Homo sapiens: one gene and its partners. The protein of the gene in region 4 purifies or fractionates together with the protein of the main gene of each other region. This does not show direct contact. Each region holds a gene or a part of one and is shown on either strand. Other genes may lie near its edges.

Evidence for each region. The genes of interacting proteins can lie anywhere in the genome.
Region 1: the proteins of SLC38A10 (region 4) and CLEC4C purify together in Homo sapiens (co-immunoprecipitation; one large-scale study listed by IntAct). This does not show direct contact.
Region 2: the proteins of SLC38A10 (region 4) and QRSL1 purify together in Homo sapiens (co-immunoprecipitation; one large-scale study listed by IntAct). This does not show direct contact.
Region 3: the proteins of SLC38A10 (region 4) and ACADSB purify together in Homo sapiens (affinity purification with mass spectrometry; one large-scale study listed by BioGRID and IntAct). This does not show direct contact.

Annotation. Positions count from the first base shown.
Region 1 is NC_000012.12:7,739,935-7,744,389, forward strand, and holds part of CLEC4C (C-type lectin domain family 4 member C), read right to left. Parts: intron 1,598-4,455; coding exon 1,487-1,597; intron 1-1,486. UniProt on the Homo sapiens protein: Lectin-type cell surface receptor which may play a role in antigen capturing by dendritic cells. Specifically recognizes non-sialylated galactose-terminated biantennary glycans containing the trisaccharide epitope Gal(beta1-3/4)GlcNAc(beta1-2)Man.
Region 2 is NC_000006.12:106,660,564-106,665,018, reverse strand, and holds part of QRSL1 (glutamyl-tRNA(Gln) amidotransferase subunit A, mitochondrial), read right to left. Parts: intron 2,040-4,455; coding exon 1,834-2,039; intron 1-1,833. UniProt on the Homo sapiens protein: Allows the formation of correctly charged Gln-tRNA(Gln) through the transamidation of misacylated Glu-tRNA(Gln) in the mitochondria. The reaction takes place in the presence of glutamine and ATP through an activated gamma-phospho-Glu-tRNA(Gln).
Region 3 is NC_000010.11:123,011,992-123,016,446, reverse strand, and holds part of ACADSB (short/branched chain specific acyl-CoA dehydrogenase, mitochondrial isoform 1 precursor), read right to left. Parts: intron 1-4,455. UniProt on the Homo sapiens protein: Short and branched chain specific acyl-CoA dehydrogenase that catalyzes the removal of one hydrogen from C-2 and C-3 of the fatty acyl-CoA thioester, resulting in the formation of trans-2-enoyl-CoA.
Region 4 is NC_000017.11:81,246,204-81,251,057, reverse strand, and holds part of SLC38A10 (solute carrier family 38 member 10), read left to right. Parts: exon of another isoform or gene 1-188; intron 189-964; coding exon of another isoform or gene 965-988; intron 989-3,996; coding exon 3,997-4,173; intron 4,174-4,384; coding exon 4,385-4,854. UniProt on the Homo sapiens protein: Facilitates bidirectional transport of amino acids. May act as a glutamate sensor that regulates glutamate-glutamine cycle and mTOR signaling in the brain. The transport mechanism remains to be elucidated.

The DNA of each region.
Region 1 (4,455 bases), on a different chromosome or scaffold from region 4:
AGTGATTCTCCTGCCTCAGCCTCCCGAGTTGCTGGGATTACAGGCATGCGACACCACGCCCGGGTAATTTTGTATTTTTAATAGAGACAGGGTTTCTCCATGTTGGTTAGGCTGGTGTCGAACTCCTGACCCCAGGTGATCCACCCGCGTCGGCCTCCCAAAGTGCTGGGATTACAGGCATGAGCCACCGTGCTGCGCTTGGGTGATTTATTTTTAAGTATTTTGTAGAGTTGAGGTCCCATCTTGTTTCCCAGGCTGGTTTCAAGCTCCCGTGCTTAGGTGATTACCCCTCCTCAGCCTCCCAAAGCACTGGGATTACAGATGTGAGCCACTATGCCAGGCATAATTTTATTCTTATCTGAATCCTGTGTATATTTATTTTTCAGTTAATCCAGAACTGTATAGGGAGAGGGATATATTTACTGTTGAACTTAGTGATTAATTGGATGCAGGGGTGAAGATGATAAGCAAAGAAAAACTGCTGGCCAGGCACGGTGGCTCACGCCTGTAATCCCAGCACTTTGGGAGGCCGATGCGGGAGGATTGCCTGAGCTCAGGAGTTCACGACCAGCCTGGACAACAAGGTGAAACCCCGTCTCTACTAAAATACAAAAAAATTAGCCGGGCCTGGCAGCGTGTGCCTGTAGTCCCAGTTACTTGGGAGGCCGAGGCAGGAGAACTGCTTGAACCTGGGAGGCAGAGGTTGCAGTGAGCCGAGATCGCGCCACTGCACTCCAGCCTGGGCGACAGAGTGAGACTCCGTCTCAAAAAAGAAAAAAAAGAAAAGAAAGAAAAAAGAGAAAAAAACTGCTAAGAATGATTCTTGAGTTTTAGGCTTTAATATTGATGGGAGCAGGAGGAAGTGAGACAGTTCTGAGGACCCCTGTTTGATACTTTAATTTTGAGGTGTCTATTTTTTTTTTTGAGACGGAGTCTCGCTCTGTCACCCAGGCTGGAGTGCAGTGGCGCGATCTCGGCTCACTGCAAGCTCCACCTTCTGGGTTTACACCATTCTCCTGCCTCAGCCTCCCGAGTAGCTGGGACTACAGGCGCCTGCCACTGCACCCAGCTAATTTTTTGTATTTTTAGTAGGGACAGGGTTTCACCGTGGTCTCGATCTCCTGACCTCGTGATCCGCCCGCCTCGGCCTCCCAAAGCGCTGGGATTACAGGCTTGAGCCACCGCGCCCGGACTTTTTTTGCATTTTTAGTAGAGATGCGGTTTCTCCGCATGTTGGTCAGGCTGGTCTCAAACTCCAGACCCTCAGGTAATCCACCCACCTCGGCCTCCCAAAGTGTTGGGATTACAGGTGTGAGCCATTGGGCCCAGCCTGAGGTGTCTATTTAAGATACCAAGTAGATAGTTAAAGAATGCAGTAGGAAAAACCAGGCTGCAGTTGATAATTTTAGTGCTGAAGATATAAACCATCAGACTAGGAATTTGATTAATAGCAAGGGAAGTCTTGTTGCCCATTGCAGAGTTGTACCTTCTATGTCCTTTCCTTCCATGACGCAGGTCAGGCTTGGATGATACTGTTGATACTCTCGTAACTTGGACAGCCTCTTGACAGTTTTGCTATACATAAAATTGTGAGGCACTGGGAAAGAGAAATCGGAGTTAGTTCTCATTCTTTTAAGTGGATCTATGTTGTACTATACAATCTTATGCTGTGGACAGGCACAGTGACTCACGCCTGTAATCTCAGCACTTTAGGAGGCCGAGGTGGGAGGACCATTTGAGGTCGGGAGTTAGAGACCAGCCTGGCTAACATGGTGAAACCCCGTCTCCACCAAAAATATAAAAATTATCCAGGTGGCCAGGCACAGTGGCTCACACCTGTAATCCCAGCGCTTTGGGAGGCCGAGGCTGGTTGGATCACTTGAGGTCAGGAGTTTGACCAACATGGTGAAACCCCGTCTCTACTAAAAATACAAAAATTAGCTGGGTGTGGTGGCGGGCACCTATAATCCGAGCTACTTGGGAGGCTGAGGCAAGAGAATTGCTAGAACCCAGGAAGCAGAGGTTGCAGTGAGCCGAGACCGCGCCATTGCACTCCAGCCTGGACGACAGAGCAAGACTGTGTCTCAAAAAAACAATTAGCCAAGGGTGGTGGCAGGCGCCTGTAATTCCAGTTACTCAAGAGGCTGAGGCAGGAAAATCACTTGAACTTGGAAGACAGAGGTTGCAGTGAGCCGAGATCGTGCCATTGCACTCCAGCCTGGGTGACAAGAGTGCAACTCCATCTCAAAAAAATAAATAAATAAATAAATAAAAATAAAGAATCTTATGACTTTACGGCTGGGCATGGTGGCTCACACCTGTAATCCCAGTACTTTGGGAGGCCAAGGCGGGTGGATCACCTGAGGTCAGGAGTTCAAGCCCAGCCCAGCCAACATGGTGAAACCCTGTTTCTACTAAAAATACAAAAATTAGGTGGGCATGGTGGCACATGCCTGTAATCCCAGCTACAGGAGGCTGAGGCAGGAGAATCACTTGAACCTGGGAGGTGGAGGTTGCAGTGAGCAGAGACCGTGCCATTGCACTCTAGCCTGGGCAATAGAGCCAGACTTTGTCTCGAAAAAAAAAAAAAAAAGCCTGGGCACAGTGGCTCATGCTTGTAATCCCCAGCACTTTGGGAGGCCGAGGTGGGTGGATCATGAGGTCAGGAGTTTGAGACCAGCCTGACCGACATGGTGAAACCCCATCTCTACTAAAAATACAAAAATTAGCCAGGCGTGGTGACACGTGTCTATTAATCCCAGCTACTCAGGAGGCTGAGGCAGGAGAATCACTTCGACCTGGGAGGCGAAGGTTGCAGTGAGCCGAGATCGCACCACTGCACTCCAGCCTGGCAACAGAACGAGACTCCATCTCAAAAATAAATAAATAAATAAATAAATAAATAAATAAATAAATAAATAAACGTTATGCTCTTACAAAGTCTGCAACATCTCTCTCTTGCCCATCCCATTTCAAGCCGTACTGTTTTTTTCTCATGCTTCTTTCTGTGCAGGTCCAGTAAAAAATATGTTCTTAACCCTATCTTATATTCATTTATCTTGTTTGTTTATAAGTTTACATACGTATATATCTTGATTTCCCCCTACAATAACATACAGTCTAGTGAAGGAATTTCATTGTATTCACGCTATATACCCAGCACCTAGAAAAGTGGCCTGCTCATAGTAGGTGTTCAGTAAGCATTTGTTGACTTACTAGGTAACAGCATCTAATTCTATTAATCCTGAAATATCACAGGTCTTTTGGTTTTTCCATAGTTTTCTGATGGCTGTAACTGTAAGTAAACCATTTGGGTCAAATTAAATATAAGGTAAAACCTAACCCTTTGGAGACATTTAGACATCTTTTGCTAAAAACGGTCTCTTTTGTTCACTGGCAGGCACATAGAGCAAGATCTGACTTTTCACTTATCCTCACTTAATTCTTTTTTTTTTTTTTTCTTTTTTTGAGATGGAGTCTTGCTCTGTCGCCCAGGCTGGAGTGCAGTGGCGCGATCTTGGCTCACTGCAAGCTCCGCCTCCTGGGTTCATGCCATTCTCCTGCCTCAGCCTCCTGAGTAGCTGGCACTACAGGCGCCCGCCACCGCGCCCGGCTAATTTTTTTTGTATTTTTTTTTTAGTAGAGACAGGGTTTCACCATGGTCTCGATCTCCTGACCTCGTGATCCGTCCGCCTCGGCCTCCCAAAGTGAGCCACCACGCCCGGCCTTAATTCTTTATTCATGTATTTCATCATTCTGATTTTGAGACTAAACCTAGTCAAACTCTTCTATTTTCTCTGAATTTATGTCTTTAAGTTCTTGCATGTCTTCTTTCCTCTCAGATAATTAAATAACCATCTTGTATTAGTCCGTTTTTGCATTGCTATAAAGGAATACCTGAGACTTGGTATTTATAAAGAAAAGACATTTTACTGGCTCACAGTTCTGCAGACTGTACAGTAAGTATGGTGCCAGCATCTGCTCACCTTCTGGTGAGGCCTCAGGAAGCTTTCAGTCATAGTGGAAGGCAAAGCGGGAGCTGGCATATCACATGGCAAGAGAGGGTGCAAGAGAGAGTGAGGGGGAGGGGCTGATCTCACCCCAACTCAGAGCAAGAACTCACTTATTCCTTCGAGGAGGGTGCCAAGCCATTCATGAGGGATCCATCTGCATCACTCAAAACCTCCTGCCATGCCCCACCTCCAACAGTGGGGATTTCAAATTTCAAGTGATAGTTGTCCCTTCCAAATTTCAAATTTTCAACATGAGACTTGGAAGGGACAACTATCCCAACCATATCACATCTTTAAGCCCTTTTGTCTCTTGCCCTTTGTTATAAAAAGCAAAGCAAAGTTTAACTTTAGTAATAATTCTGCCTCTTGGGGTTACATTGAAAACTGTGAGATGTATTTACAACTAGAAAGAAACTGAAGACTGTATCATCAACACATTTTT
Region 2 (4,455 bases), on a different chromosome or scaffold from region 4:
AAAAGGAAGGCTCTTCTTTAGAGAATACTGCTAGCTAATAAATGTAGAAGGAATGACAGATTTAGTAAAGCCAGAATTTTGTAATTCTCTAGCTAATATTTCAAGGATGATCAATGAATGCTAAAACTGGGTTCAAGATAATTGGAAAATAGGATATTCACATGGTCTCAAAATATTACTCCAGAAATTGCTTAAAAAAATGATAAAAGGAAAAATGTACCTTTTTATAAGGAAACATCTAGCAGTTACTTCCTTAGCGAAGTGATCAACTTGGTTTCCAAAAGTGAGACAAACTGATATTAACTGTTTCCTGACATGAAGATTATGTAGTACTTCTACCAAAAATGTTTAACTCAACCCAATCATGAGGAAGCAATCTGACAAATCCTGATTATGGATGGGACATCTTACAGCACAAGTGGACTGGGCTCTTAACATTTTTTAAGTGCTAAAGATAAGAACTGTTGAACCAGAGTTCTACATCCAGCAAAAATAACCTTTAAAAATCAAAGGGAAATCAACACATTCTCAAAAGGAAAGCTATGATAATTTTTCATCAGCAGACCTACCCTAAAAGAAAGGCTAAAGAAATTTCTCTAAACAGAAGTGACAAAATAAAGAATCTTGGTACTTCAGGAAGGAAGAATGAACACAGTAAGCAAAAGTATAGGTAAATGTAATAGACTTTCCTTTTCCTCTTAAGTTTTCTACATTATGTTTGATGATTGAAACAAAAATTATAGCATAGCCTGATGTGGTTTTAAAGAAAAAAGAGAGGTGGGGTGATTGTTCTAGATTTTAAAAAGATACCATAAACCAATGTAATATATCAGGAGGAAAGACAACTTATAAAAGACACTTTTGGTAGAACTGAGAAAATTTGAATATAAACCATATTTAAATTATTCTTCAATCATGTTAGTTTTCTTAGGTATGACAATGGAATTGTGGTTCTGTAGGAAAATTTATCCTTATAAGATTTGTACAAAAGAATTTAGGGGTGAAGTGTCATGACATCTGAAACTTTCAAATGATTCAGGTAAAAACAAAGTTGTTTGTGTGGTGAGTGTGGGTGTGTAGAAAGAGGAAGAGAAGGGCAAAGCAAATATAATGTTAACAAGATTACATCCAGGTGAAGGGCATATCAGCATTCATTATACCACTTTTTCAGCTTTTCTGTGGGTTTAAAATTTTTCAAAATAAAAGTTAAAAAAAACTACTAAGTGTGTTGTGTTTGTGTGTGTGTGGTGAGAGTGCATGCAAGTGTACGGATATGGTTTGGATCTGTCTCCCCACACAAATCTCATGTTGAATTGTAATCCCCAATGTTGAAGGTGGGGCCTAGTGGAAGGCAACTGGATCATGGGGACGGTTTCTCATAAACGGTTTAACACCATTCCCCTTGGTGCTGTTCTCGTGATAGTGAGTGAGTTATCACAAGACCTGGTTGTTTTAAAAGTGTGTAGCACCTTCCCCCTTTCTCTCTTGCTTGGGCTGGGCCATGTAAGACATGGCTACTTCTCCTTCACCTTCCACTGTGAATTTAAGTTTCCTGAGGCATTCGCAGAAGTGGAAGCTGCTCAGCTTCCTGTACAGCCCGCAGAACTGTGAGCCAATTAAACCTCTTTTTTAAATTAAATTATCCAGTCTCAGGTATTTCTTTATAGCAGTGTGAGAACAGACTAATACATGTACACACACACTCACTCCTAAGCATTCCAAAAGGATAGACTTTTGCTTTTCGGAAACCATCTAGCTAGAATCTTAAGTTGAAGACCAGGGTACCTGCCTAAGAATTTGAAGAAAATCAGAATGTTCCTGAGGAATCCTCACCTGCCATATTTACAGCTTGTGTAAAAATATCATCCTGGGCACTTCGGGTTCTGTTGTCCTCTTTGATGAACTCCAAGTATGGTACTGCCTCACTCAAGGTGGTGGGAGTTAGCAAGACATCTACTCCAGAGTTAAAAGCATTTACAAAGTCATTAGCAATGAGGCGTCTCACTTTCTGTGCTTTGACAAAATAATTTTCATAGTTTCTGTGGGAAAAAAGTAGGTGATGTTTTTAAGGATTTTTTGTATTTTTCTTTTAATCAATTATCTTACATTAGGCTTGATAAAGAACCATTGGATTTCCATTTTCTGGCTGAATAAAAAGTTTGGCTTGCCTGTGTAATGCCCATTCCCTTCCCCCTGGCTCCCCAGTGGTGGGGCGTATATGAGAGAGGAGTGTTTTTCTATCATAGACGCCATAGGGGAAAGTTTGGGGATGAAGCAGAGCTTAAAGGCATTTCAATTAAGTTAGAAAACTGAAACAGACTGTTGAGAAATCTTTGCCACTTTTCCCACCCCAAAACAGCCTGGGGCCTGACATCTTCTGCCCTGGGCCCCTTTCTCTTGATGTGGAAAGTCTGAATGCAGTATTTATAGACTTCTAAGGTTTTAAAATCCTGCATCAGGAAGAAAACCAGAAATACTGGTTGGTTAAATAAAGAGTTTAGGCATTGTTTAGGGAAAAAAAAAAAAAAAGAACCACTGGATTCTTGGCTTTTATGAGGAGGCACCATTAAGATTCTTAACATAAAAATGAATTCTCTTCCACTGTGTTGCCACTCTAAAAGTTTGTATATATAAATTAATCAATCCGAATTCAGAATTCACTAGTAGATGCAATTCTACACTTATAATCTCAAAATATTAATAACTCCAGGGCCATCATTAAACCAGAATATTCATTGGTGAGGAAAGTAAAGTACACAGCAACAAATGGCTTTCTAAAGGTTACTAAGATAGACAGCGGTAGACTATGCAGTATTTGAATTTTGTATTTTACGGATAGGTATAGCCCAGGGGTAGAAATGTGAAATTCAAGAATGCTTATTTTACTAAAAAGACTAAAGAAAAAGCCAGACATAGGAGTAACCATAAATCAATGATACAAAGAAAAGGAAAAAAAATCCTTTAGATTCTTCTGAAGCTGTTAGGAGAGGCTAGCAAGAACTGTTCTAGGCCGGGCGCAGTGGCTCACGCCTGTAATCCCAGCACTTTGGGAGGCCGAGGTGGGTGGATCACCTGCGGCTGAGAGTTTAAGACCAGCCTGACCAACATGGAGAAACCCCATCTCTACTAAAAATACCAAATTAGCCGGGCGTGGTGGCTCATGCCTGTAATCCCAGCTACTCAGGAGGCTGAGGCAGGAGCATTGCTTGAACCTGGGAGGCGGAGGTTGTAGTGAGCTGGGATCGCTCCATTGCACTCCAGCGTGGAGAGCTGGAAACAAGAGCGGAACTCCGTCTCAAAAAAAAAAAAAAAAAAAAAAAAAAAAAAAAAAAGAACTAACCATTCTTTTCCACAACAGTTTCCACAACAGTAAAAATGGATATACCTGCTCCAGTTTTACTGAGGGCCAAATAAAATACGATAAAAACGTGAAATATGTTTTACTCTAAAAGAGTGGTACAGAAATATCATAGGTCCTTACTCTTATTTGACCACCAGGTCTACAGAGAGACCAATGCAGGCATCACATATAATTTACACACTGACAACACCTAAGTGGTTTAAACACCATATTCCAAAACCTGAATTTTATAAAGAACAAATACTGGCTGGGCCTGGTGGCTCATGTTGTAATCTCAGCACTTTGGGAGGCCGAGGCGTCGGATCACAAGGTCAGGAGTTCGAGACCAGCTTGACCAACATGGTGAAATCCTGACTCTACTAAAAATACAAAAAAATTTAGCCGGGCATGGTGGTGGGCGCCTGTAGTCCCAGCTACTGGGGAGGCTGAGGCAGGAGGAGAATCTCTTGAACCCAGGAGGTGGAGGATGCAGTGAGCCAAGATCGCGCCACTGCACTCCAGCCTGGCGACAGAGCAAGACTCCGTCTCAAAAAAAAACAAAACAAAACAAAACAAATACTTGTTTTCTATTAAATTTCTTCCTACTTTAAATATGGCTCAGAAGAAGAACTGCTTCCATCCAAGATAGAGTAATGGAGATGGGATTTACCCTGTGCTATGGTTTGAATGCTTGTCCCCTCCAAAACTCATGCTGAAATTTAACTGCCACTGAAACAGTATTAAGAGATGGGGCCTTTAAGAGGTGATTGGGCCATAACAACTCCACTCTTGAGTGGGATTGGTGCCATTCTAAGAGGGAAAGTTCAGCCCCCCATGTGCTTTCCCTTTCTCTCCCTCTTTTTCTCCCCACCCTTGCTTTCTGCCATGTGTGGACATAGCAAGAAGGCCCTCACCAGGTGCTGGCTTCTCAATGTTGGACCTCCCACCCAGCCTCCAGAACTGTGAGCCAGTAAATCTCCGTTCATTATAAATCACCCAGTCTCAGGCATTCTGTTATAGCAGCAAAAATGAACTAAGACTGCTTCTCAGAATAGGGGATTAAAAAAAAAAAAAGAACTAAGACACTCTGCCTTCTTAAACAACTAGAAAACTGG
Region 3 (4,455 bases), on a different chromosome or scaffold from region 4:
AGCCATCCTTCAACCACTCATGGACTGCTGAGTGTTCTAACTGTGTTCAAATAAGACAATTGCAAATCTGTAACCAATCCAGCCACTGTGTACCTCACTTCCGATTTGTCACTTCCCTTCATTTGTCTATAAATTTGTTATGACCACAAGGCATCCCTGGAGTCTCTCCAAATCTGCTGTGGTTCTGGGGGCTGCCCAATTTGCTGCTCAATTAAACTCCTTTAAATTTAATTCAGATGAAGTTTTCCTTTTACCATAGCTTTAGCACTGGTCCACTTTCTAGACCCATTTCTGACCAGCTTCTAAGACACTTTCAGTTGTAAGTTTTATTAATACCTAAAACGTGTCTAAAACAGAATTACCTTTCTTCTGTCACCCTAAATTACTTTTTCTCCAGATGTCCCAATCTTTGCCTATCACTAAGCTATTTCATTTAGAAAATGTGTAGTCCATCTAATTCCTCCATTTCAAGATAATTCCCACATCTTCTCAAGTCTTCTTTTATTAACATGTCTTCCTTTCTGATCATCGGTGCTATCACCCTCATTGAGGGCCTTGTTACTCTAAAAGTGGACTTGTGAAATGGTCTAAGTGGGATGTGGCTTCAGAGTCTCACGTGATGAGTTCCTTTTGTGAGCTGCTGACTGTTTTATCTTGTAAACTCCTTTGCAAACAGCACCTTAAAATCTCAATGGCTGCTATTGAAATCTTTCAACAAAAATCTTTGAAACTGTAGATCAATTTCTATAGCCAACAAACTGAGTATGGCAAATAGTTTTAGAGAGAAAGTTCCCTACCAGGTTATAAGGAGAAAGGCCACCTTTCCCCTCCTTCATGGAGTACACTGTTACACAGGTCTACATCCGTGGTTCTCAGTCCAGTAATTTTGCCCCCACGGGACATTTGGCCATGGATGGAGACATTTTGGGTTGTCATAGCTCAGGCAAGCTATTGGCCTCTTATGAGTAGAGGCCAGGGATACTGCTTAGCATCCTACAAAACACAGAAAACCTGGTCTAGCCCTTACAGAGAATGAGTCAAGATAATGTGGGCCTTCTTAGACAAGGTGGCATGAGGAACAACAACAACAAAAACGACAATGTAGGCCCAAGACAGGGCAAGTGTGTGAGGATCCCGAGAGAAAGGAGAAAGACTCTTTGATGGTTGCCAGGGAGAGTGTCTTTATGGTTACTTAGTCTTCCTAGCACCAGAGAGAGATCAACGGAAGACAAAGATATATTTGCATGTGCAAAGTAACTGCCATTTCTGTGTTGAGTAGTAAACATTATAAATTCTTGTGTTTTGGTAAATAAAAGGGCTCTTCTCCAGGACTGTGGGCAACCCTGTCTGGGCAACACCCATGTAGGAACTGGCAGAAGAAATCCAGGCTTGCTTCACTCTGTGATTCTTTCTAGCTTCCTAGATTGGAGAAGCCAAAACTGCTTGGCAGCTATCAGCTCCTCACTGCTTTGAGATCAAGGATAAACTTAACCCTTAGGCAGTTACCATCTGAACCCATTCCACCCTTCTGCAAAACTGTTACATCACCTATAGTGGCATATTATTTCTTAAACAAGCTGAGCATATTCCTACCTCTACACCTTTGCGTGCACATTTCCTTGCCCTGGAATCCGCACCCCTCTGCTGCTTTACCTAAAACTGCTCCTTTGAATGGTCACTTGAAGCCCCATCTCCTATAAGCATATCTGCCCATATTATTTATTTAGCATTAGCAACATGCTATCTTCTACTGTTCTAAAATTCATTTTTAAAACAGATACCCTACCTCCCCAATTAAAAATGTAATTTTTTTTGATGTCAAGAACCCTGTTGTAAACCTACAGATCCCCAAAACTTACCTGTGTACTTTGCGTAAGGCAATGATACCCTAAAACATCCTATCAAAGTTATTGGTAATGTGTTCTGCCTACATTAATAGCTAGTGTTGTCCAGGCACAGTGGCTCATGCCTGCAATCCCAGCACTTTGGGAGGCCAAGGCGGGAGGATCACTTGAGTCCAGGATTTTGAAGCTTCAGTGAGCCATGATCTGTATCACTGCACTCCAGCCTGGGTGACAGAACAAGATCCTGTCTCTAAAAAACTAACTTAATTAATTAATTTTAAAAATAGCTAATGTTTACTGATTATTTATAATGAGTCAGCTGCTCTAAGTACTTAAGAACATTTATTATGAGTCAGCTGTTCCAAGTTCTCAGGTTAAGAGATGTGTCATTCCAAAGAGAAAGGCAAGAGGGTGAGAGAAGGTGAGAGTGAGAAATGAGGGGAGAGAAAGAGAGAGCAAGAGAAGGCCAAAGTTGTCCTTTAATGAGGAACTCATTCTCTCAAAAACAGCATTAATAATTTACGAGGCCAGTTCCCCTATTTAGAGGTGACAGCATGCTGGCAGCCCTCGCTTGCTCTCGGTGCCTCGCCTCCTCGGCCTCGGCGCCCATTCTGGCCACGCTTGAGGAGCCCTTCAGCCCACCGCTGCACCGTGGGAGCCCTTCTCTAGGCTGGCCAAGGCTGGAGCCAGCTCCCTCGGCTTGCGGGGAGGTGTGGAGGGAGAGGCATGGGCGGGAACCAGGGCTGCGTGGCGCTTGTGGGCCAGCTAGAGTTCCGGGTGGGCGTGGGCTTGGCAGGCCCTGCACTCGGAGCGGCCGGCAGGCCCTGCGGCCCCGGGCAGTGAGGGGCTTAGCACCCAGGCCAGCAGCTGTGGAGGGTGCGCCGGGTCCCCCAGCAGTGCTGGCCCACCGGCGCCGCGCTCGATTTCTAGCCAGGCCTTAGCTGCCTCTCCGCGGGGCAGGCCCCGGGACCTGCAGCCCACCATGCCTGAGTCTCCCCGCCACCGCCAGTGGGCTCCTGCACGGCCTGAGCCTCCCCGACGAGCGCCACCCCCTGCTCCACTGCACCCAGTCCCATCAACCGCCCAAGGGCTGAGGAGTGCAGGCACGAGGCGCGAGACTGGCAGGCAGCTCCACCTGCGGCACTGGTGCAAGATCCACTGGGTGAGGCCAGCTGGGCTCCTGAGTCTAGTGGGGACTTGGAGAACCTTTGTGTCTAGCTAAGGGATTGTGAGTGCACCAATCAGCACTCAGTGTCTAGCTCAAGGTTTGTGAACACACCAATCAGCACCCTGTGTCTAGCTCAGGGTTTGTGGATGCACCAATCGGTACTCTGTATCTAGCTAATCTGGTGGTGACTTGAAGAATCTTTATGTCTAGCTAAGGGATTGTAAATACACCAATCAGCACTCTGTATCAAGCTCAGGGTTTGTGGATGCACCAATCGGTACTCTGTATCTAGCTAATCTGGTGGGGACTTGAAGAATCTTTATGTCTAGCTAAGTGATTGTAAATACACCAATCAGCACTCTGTATCAAGCTCAAGGTTTGTAAATGCACCAATCCGCACTCTGTGTCTAGTTCAGGGTTTGTAAATACACCAATCAGCACTCTGTATCTAGCTAATCTAGTGGGGAGGTGGAGAACTTTTGTGTCTAGCTCAGGGATTGTAAATGCACCAATCAGCACCCTGTCAAAACAGACCAATCCAATCAGCTGTCTGTAAAACAGACCAATCAGGCTGCCGAGCCAGCAGTGGCAATCCAATCGGGTCCCCTTCCACACTGTGGAAGCTTTGTTCTTTAGCTCTTTGCAATAAATCTTGCCGCTGCTCAATCTTTGAGTCCACACTGCCTTTATGAGCTGTAACACTCACCGCGAAGGTCTGCAGCTTCACTCCTGAAGCCAGCGAGGCCACAAGCCCACCGGGAGGAGCGAACAACTCCAGATGTGCCGCCTTAAGAGCTGTAACACTCACCGTGAAGGTCTGCAGCTTCACTCCTGAGCCGGTGACACCACAAACCCACCAGAAGGAAGAAACTCCGAACACATCCGAACATCAGAAGGAACAAACTCCAGACACACCGCCTTTAAGAACTGTAGCACTCACCGCGAGGGTCCGTGGCTTCATTCTTGAAGTCAGTGAGACCAAGAACCCACCAATTCTGGACACACTATGACCCAAACACTTCCCATTAGGCCCCACCACTCAAAACCTCCGCACTGGGGATCAAGCTTCCAACACATGAATTTTGGGGGACACATTCAAACCATTTGTGTTCTCTCTACCTGGATGCCAAATATATGTCCAGAAAAAATACTTCTGGTTTTGTTGAAGAGCAAAAAGTTAAACAACAAGAATTATATGTATTTTGGCAGCTGCTGTCTGGCAGATGTCCAGAGAATTAACTGAACAAGAATTCACGTCAAGGATATTTGTCAAGAATCACCTCTTGGCTGGGTGCAATGGCTCATGCCTGTAATCCCAGCATTTTGGAGGGTGAGGTGGGAGGATCGCTTGAGGCCAGGAGTTCCAGACCAGCCTGGCCAACACAGTGAGACCTCATCTCTACAAAACACTTTAAAAATTAGCCAGGTGCAGTGACACATGCC
Region 4 (4,854 bases):
CCCAGTTTGGGGGTGGCTGTGCCCGCCCTGGTCCTAGCATAGCCCTGGCCCAGAGCACTGCTCCCACACCCTCGGGCCTCGGAGCTCGGCTGTGTTCATCTACAGGGATCTGTCACCTGTCCCTCCAGGAAAGCTCCTTACGCCTTTGCTCTCCTGAGAATAAAACTTGCTCTGAATCCTCCTCCAAACTTCTCGCCCCTTGGGTCTCAGCTGTTGGCTTTTTGCGACCCCTCCTTGTGGCCTCATGCAGTTGGGTAGCAGCAGCCCCGTCTGTGAGCCTGCTGGGGACAGGCTTCTGTGCCATGTCCTCTCCCAGGCTAGGGGTCCACCCGCCCTCTGAGGGTGTGTGGCTGGGCCCCCGCTCACCAAAAGTCACGTGCATTTGGTGGCAGTGTCCAAGCCTTCTCTCAAGATGGTCAACCCTGCCCCATGCGGGGTCCACGTGTGCCTCAGCATTGAGAGGGTCTGTTCCAGGGATCTGTGTGGGGGTCGCAGGGCACAGCCGCTCCAGCCTCCTGTGCCAAGCCCCTGGGAGCAGGTGTGGGAGCTCCGGGCCAGCCCTGGCACGGGCACCTCCCAGGATGTTCGTAAGACACACGCTTCCTGCCCGCGCATCTTGCCCTGTGGCCTCAGGACAGCCGGTCCGAGGGAGGGCAGGTGCAGCAGCCACGTCCCAGTCGCTGCGGCCTGGCTTCTCCAGGTGCAGCTCGCCCTCCTTGCACCTGCAGCGCGGAAGGCAGAGCCAAAAGGCGCCCCCTGGGCTCCCGGAGCTCTGAGCCACTTCAGGAGTTCGGGCATGTGGGGTTTTGTCTCCGGTTTTAGTCTGGCCATGTTTGTTGGTTCCAATTCCTATGCTCTGTTACCTGAACCTGTTTGATTCTTTTGATTTTCTTCTTTCTGAAAAAGACTTTTCACGGTTTCCTATTCTGCCTTTCTTCCGTATGCCTCTCAACGGGACGAGCAGCTGAAATTAAAAAGATAGTAGCAGGTACGAACCCAAAGGAGTGTGCTGAAGTCAAGAGCCTGTCTGGCGGGCCACAGACCTGAGCGCAGCCCCTCGGTGGCACACCTGCCCCAGGGACAGCCCTGCATGGGGACACGTGTCAGGCCCCAGACCTGCGCACGCACCCAGGCTCAGCCACAGCCCCTCAGGCAGGGTCCCGATGCCCACTCTGCTCCCTTGTGTTACAAATGCCGTGGTCCTTCTCAGCCCTGCTGTGGCCTTGCCTGTCATCAGAGGGCAGCTGGTCTCTGCAAGCGTCTGAGTGCAGGCTGCTTAGGGCACCAGCCAAGGGGGGACGCTGCCTGCACTGCTGCCTCATGGGCCACCTTGACAGATCTGCATGGGTCTCAACAGGTGGGTGGCTTCGTGCCTTCTGCAGCCCAGTCCCCGTGGTCTTGGTGGGCTCTGGCTGTAGGAACAGCCTGTCTCCTCCACGGTGCTTCACATGTGTCCCACGTGGCTTCTGGCTGGACGTGGCATGGCTCCTTCCCCCCTCCCCCTCTTTTTTCCTCCTCTTCCTCTTCCTTCCTCCCTCCTCTTCCCTCCTCCCTCCTTCTCCCTCCTCTTCTCTCCTCCCTCCTCTTCCCTCCTCCCTCCTCTTCCCTCCCTCCTTCTCCCTCCCTCCTTCTCCCTCCTCTTCCCTCCCTCCTTCATCCTCCTCTTCCCTCCCTCCTGCTCCTCTTCCCTCCCTCCTCCTCCTCTTCCCTCCTTCCTCCTCTTCCCTCCTTCCTCCTCTTCCCTCCTTCCTCCTCTTCCCTCCTTCCTCCTCTTCCCTCCTTCCTCCTCCTCCCTCCTCCTCTTCCCCCACCTTCCTTCTCCCTCCTCCTCTTTCTCCCTCCCTCCTCCCCCTCCCCCTCCTCCCTTCTGTCTCCTCTTTCCTCCTCTTCCCAGCACCAGGCCCAGGGCTAGTCCTTTGAGGAGCAAGTGAGGCCATGGTGCCTGCTCTTTCGGAACCCTGCCCTGGAGTATGGGGAGGTGTCACCAGCACATGGGATCTCGTCCTTGTACCATTGACATTCCGTGGTTGAGCCCCGCAGCACCCAGGGCGAGCACGTGGCCCACGGCCGAGGTGGCTGGTCTGCCACCTGCACTTCCTCCTGTGAAAGGAGGTGTGCGGGAGACCTGCTCTGCCCGTCATGGCCTTTCCCTGCAGGCAGGCGTCTGGCCCGGGGTGCTAGCAGGGAGCAGGGGCTGCTGCTTGAGGGCCGGCCCCATGGCCCTGATCTCCTTGGAGCCAGCCCTGTCCCCCACATCCAGGGGTCTGGGCGAGGCCCAGGGCTGCGTTCCTGGGAGAATGCTGACCCTGCACTTCTCTGGCTGGTCATGGTGTCACCACTGGGGAGGCTGGGCCGGCACGTCAGTCTATGCCTGGCATGCAGGGCCGTCCCTGAGATATTTGCTCTCACCACTCACAAAACATCCTTCTCGCTCCTGGATTGAACTTTTATGCCTCACAGCCCTAACCCATCATTTTTCAAAGCTTCCTATAATAATTTGAAAACATCTTGTAAAAATGACATAAGTCACAGCCGCTTGCGGCAAATAACTGGCCAGTGTTGAAGCGAGTCAGACCGGGTGCTCCTGCACCAAGTGTGTGCCAGCCGTAACCCGGGCAGGCCTGTCCTCTGGCCCTTGCTGCAGGCACCAGCTCTTAACACGGGGTGCACTGGGGCTCCCCATCACGCAGGACCTGCCCAGAATTTCCACAGTGGATGGTGTTCAGGAGCGGTGGTTAGGATGGCTGGCGGGGGCCTCACTGACGCTCCAGCTCCCATGCTCCCCTTAGAAGACAGCTTTTGGCCGGGTGCGGTGGCTCATGCCTGTAATCCCAGCACTTTGCGAGGCTGAGGTGTGCGAATCACGAGGTCAGGAGATCAAGACCATCCTGGCTAACACGGTGAAACCCCATCTCTACTAAAAATACAAAACATTAGCCGGGCGCGGTGGCGGGCGTCTGTAGTCCCAGCTACTCGGGAGGCTGAGGCAGAAGAATGGCGTGAACCCGGGAGGCGGAGCTTGCAGTGAGCTGAGATCGCGCCACTGCACTCCAGCCTGGGTGACAGAGTGAGACTCCCGTCTCAAAAAAAAAAAAAAAAAAAAAAAAGACAGCTTTTGTTTGTTTTTAAAATTCTCATCTCGGAGGAAACTTTCTAGAAGTACCAATATTCTTTTCAAAACATAGCTTACAGTTTTTCTTTTCTTTTTTTCTTTTTTGAGACAGGGTCTTGCTCTGTTGCCCAGGCTGGAGTGCAGTGGTGTGATCACGGCTCACTGCAGCCTCGACCTCCTGGGCTCAAATGATCCTCTGGCCTCTGCCCCCCGAGTAGCTGGGAGTACAGACGCCTCTCACCATACCCTGATCATTTTTATTTTTTTGTTTTTTTTGTTTTTGTGGAGATGGGGGTCTTGCTATGTTTCCCAGGCTGGTCTCTAACTCCTGGGCTCAAGCGATCTGCCTGCCTCCGCCTCCCAAATTGCTGGGATTACAGGCGTGAGCCGCCGTGCCCAGGCTTATTTTCTTACGTGCTTGTCCTAGAACAACTGAATGTGTAAAGTGGAAAAAACAAAAACAAAACCCCACCCAGCCCAGATAACCATCTCTGACATTCTGGCACATTCCTTTTGACTGTTGCTCTGGACACTCACTTCCATGGGCAACGAGCAGGCTTGCTGGGGTCCTGCCGGGTGCGCCTGGGGCACAGCCAGTGGGAGAACTGATGCGGCACAGTGGCTGGCTGTGCGGGAGAGGCCATCCCGGGTGGGCTTCCAGGGGCAGTCAGGGCGCAGCCTCTCCCGGGCCCTCAGGCCTGCGTGCATCACTGAGCTGTCCGGGCTTCACGGTCACAGTCATGATGGGTGTCACCAGTGGCCAGTGTTCGGGCACACTCCCTGCAGGTGACCTGTGCGTTGCCTTGCTGTGGGCCGCGCCGTCCCTGGCCCAGCACGGTGCATGAGCAGCCCGGGCACTCTGACTGTGTGCTTTCCAAACCCAGAAGCTGGCAGGGCGGAGATGCTGGACCACGCCGTCCTGCTTCAGGTGATCAAAGAACAGCAGGTGCAGCAAAAGCGCTTGCTGGACCAGCAGGAGAAGCTGCTGGCGGTGATCGAGGAGCAGCACAAGGAGATCCACCAGCAGAGGCAGGAGGACGAGGAGGATAAACCCAGGCAGGGTAGGCCGGGCTGGCGGATGGAGTGGGGTGGGGCCAGGCAGGGGGTCTCCTGCTGTCCTCATGCGGCTGGGTCTGAGGCTCGGTGGCCTCTAGACCTGAGCGTGAGTCTGGTTTTGGTTCCCAATGCTGTTGTTGCTGGTTCTTCTGAGCCCCTCCACTGGCAGCCTGTGTACAGTGCTGTGGCTAAATTGATGACCGACTTCATTTGCAGTGGAGGTGCATCAAGAGCCCGGGGCAGCGGTGCCCAGAGGCCAGGAGGCCCCTGAAGGCAAGGCCAGGGAGACGGTGGAGAATCTGCCTCCCCTGCCTTTGGACCCTGTCCTCAGAGCTCCTGGGGGCCGCCCTGCTCCATCCCAGGACCTTAACCAGCGCTCCCTGGAGCACTCTGAGGGGCCTGTGGGCAGAGACCCTGCTGGCCCTCCTGACGGCGGCCCTGACACAGAGCCTCGGGCAGCCCAGGCCAAGCTGAGAGATGGCCAGAAGGATGCCGCCCCCAGGGCAGCTGGCACTGTGAAGGAGCTCCCCAAGGGCCCGGAGCAGGTGCCCGTGCCAGACCCCGCCAGGGAAGCCGGGGGCCCAGAGGAGCGCCTCGCAGAGGAATTCCCTGGGCAAAGTCAGGACGTTACTGGCGGTTCCCAAGACAGGAAAAAACCTGGGAAGGAGGTGGCAGCCACTGGCACC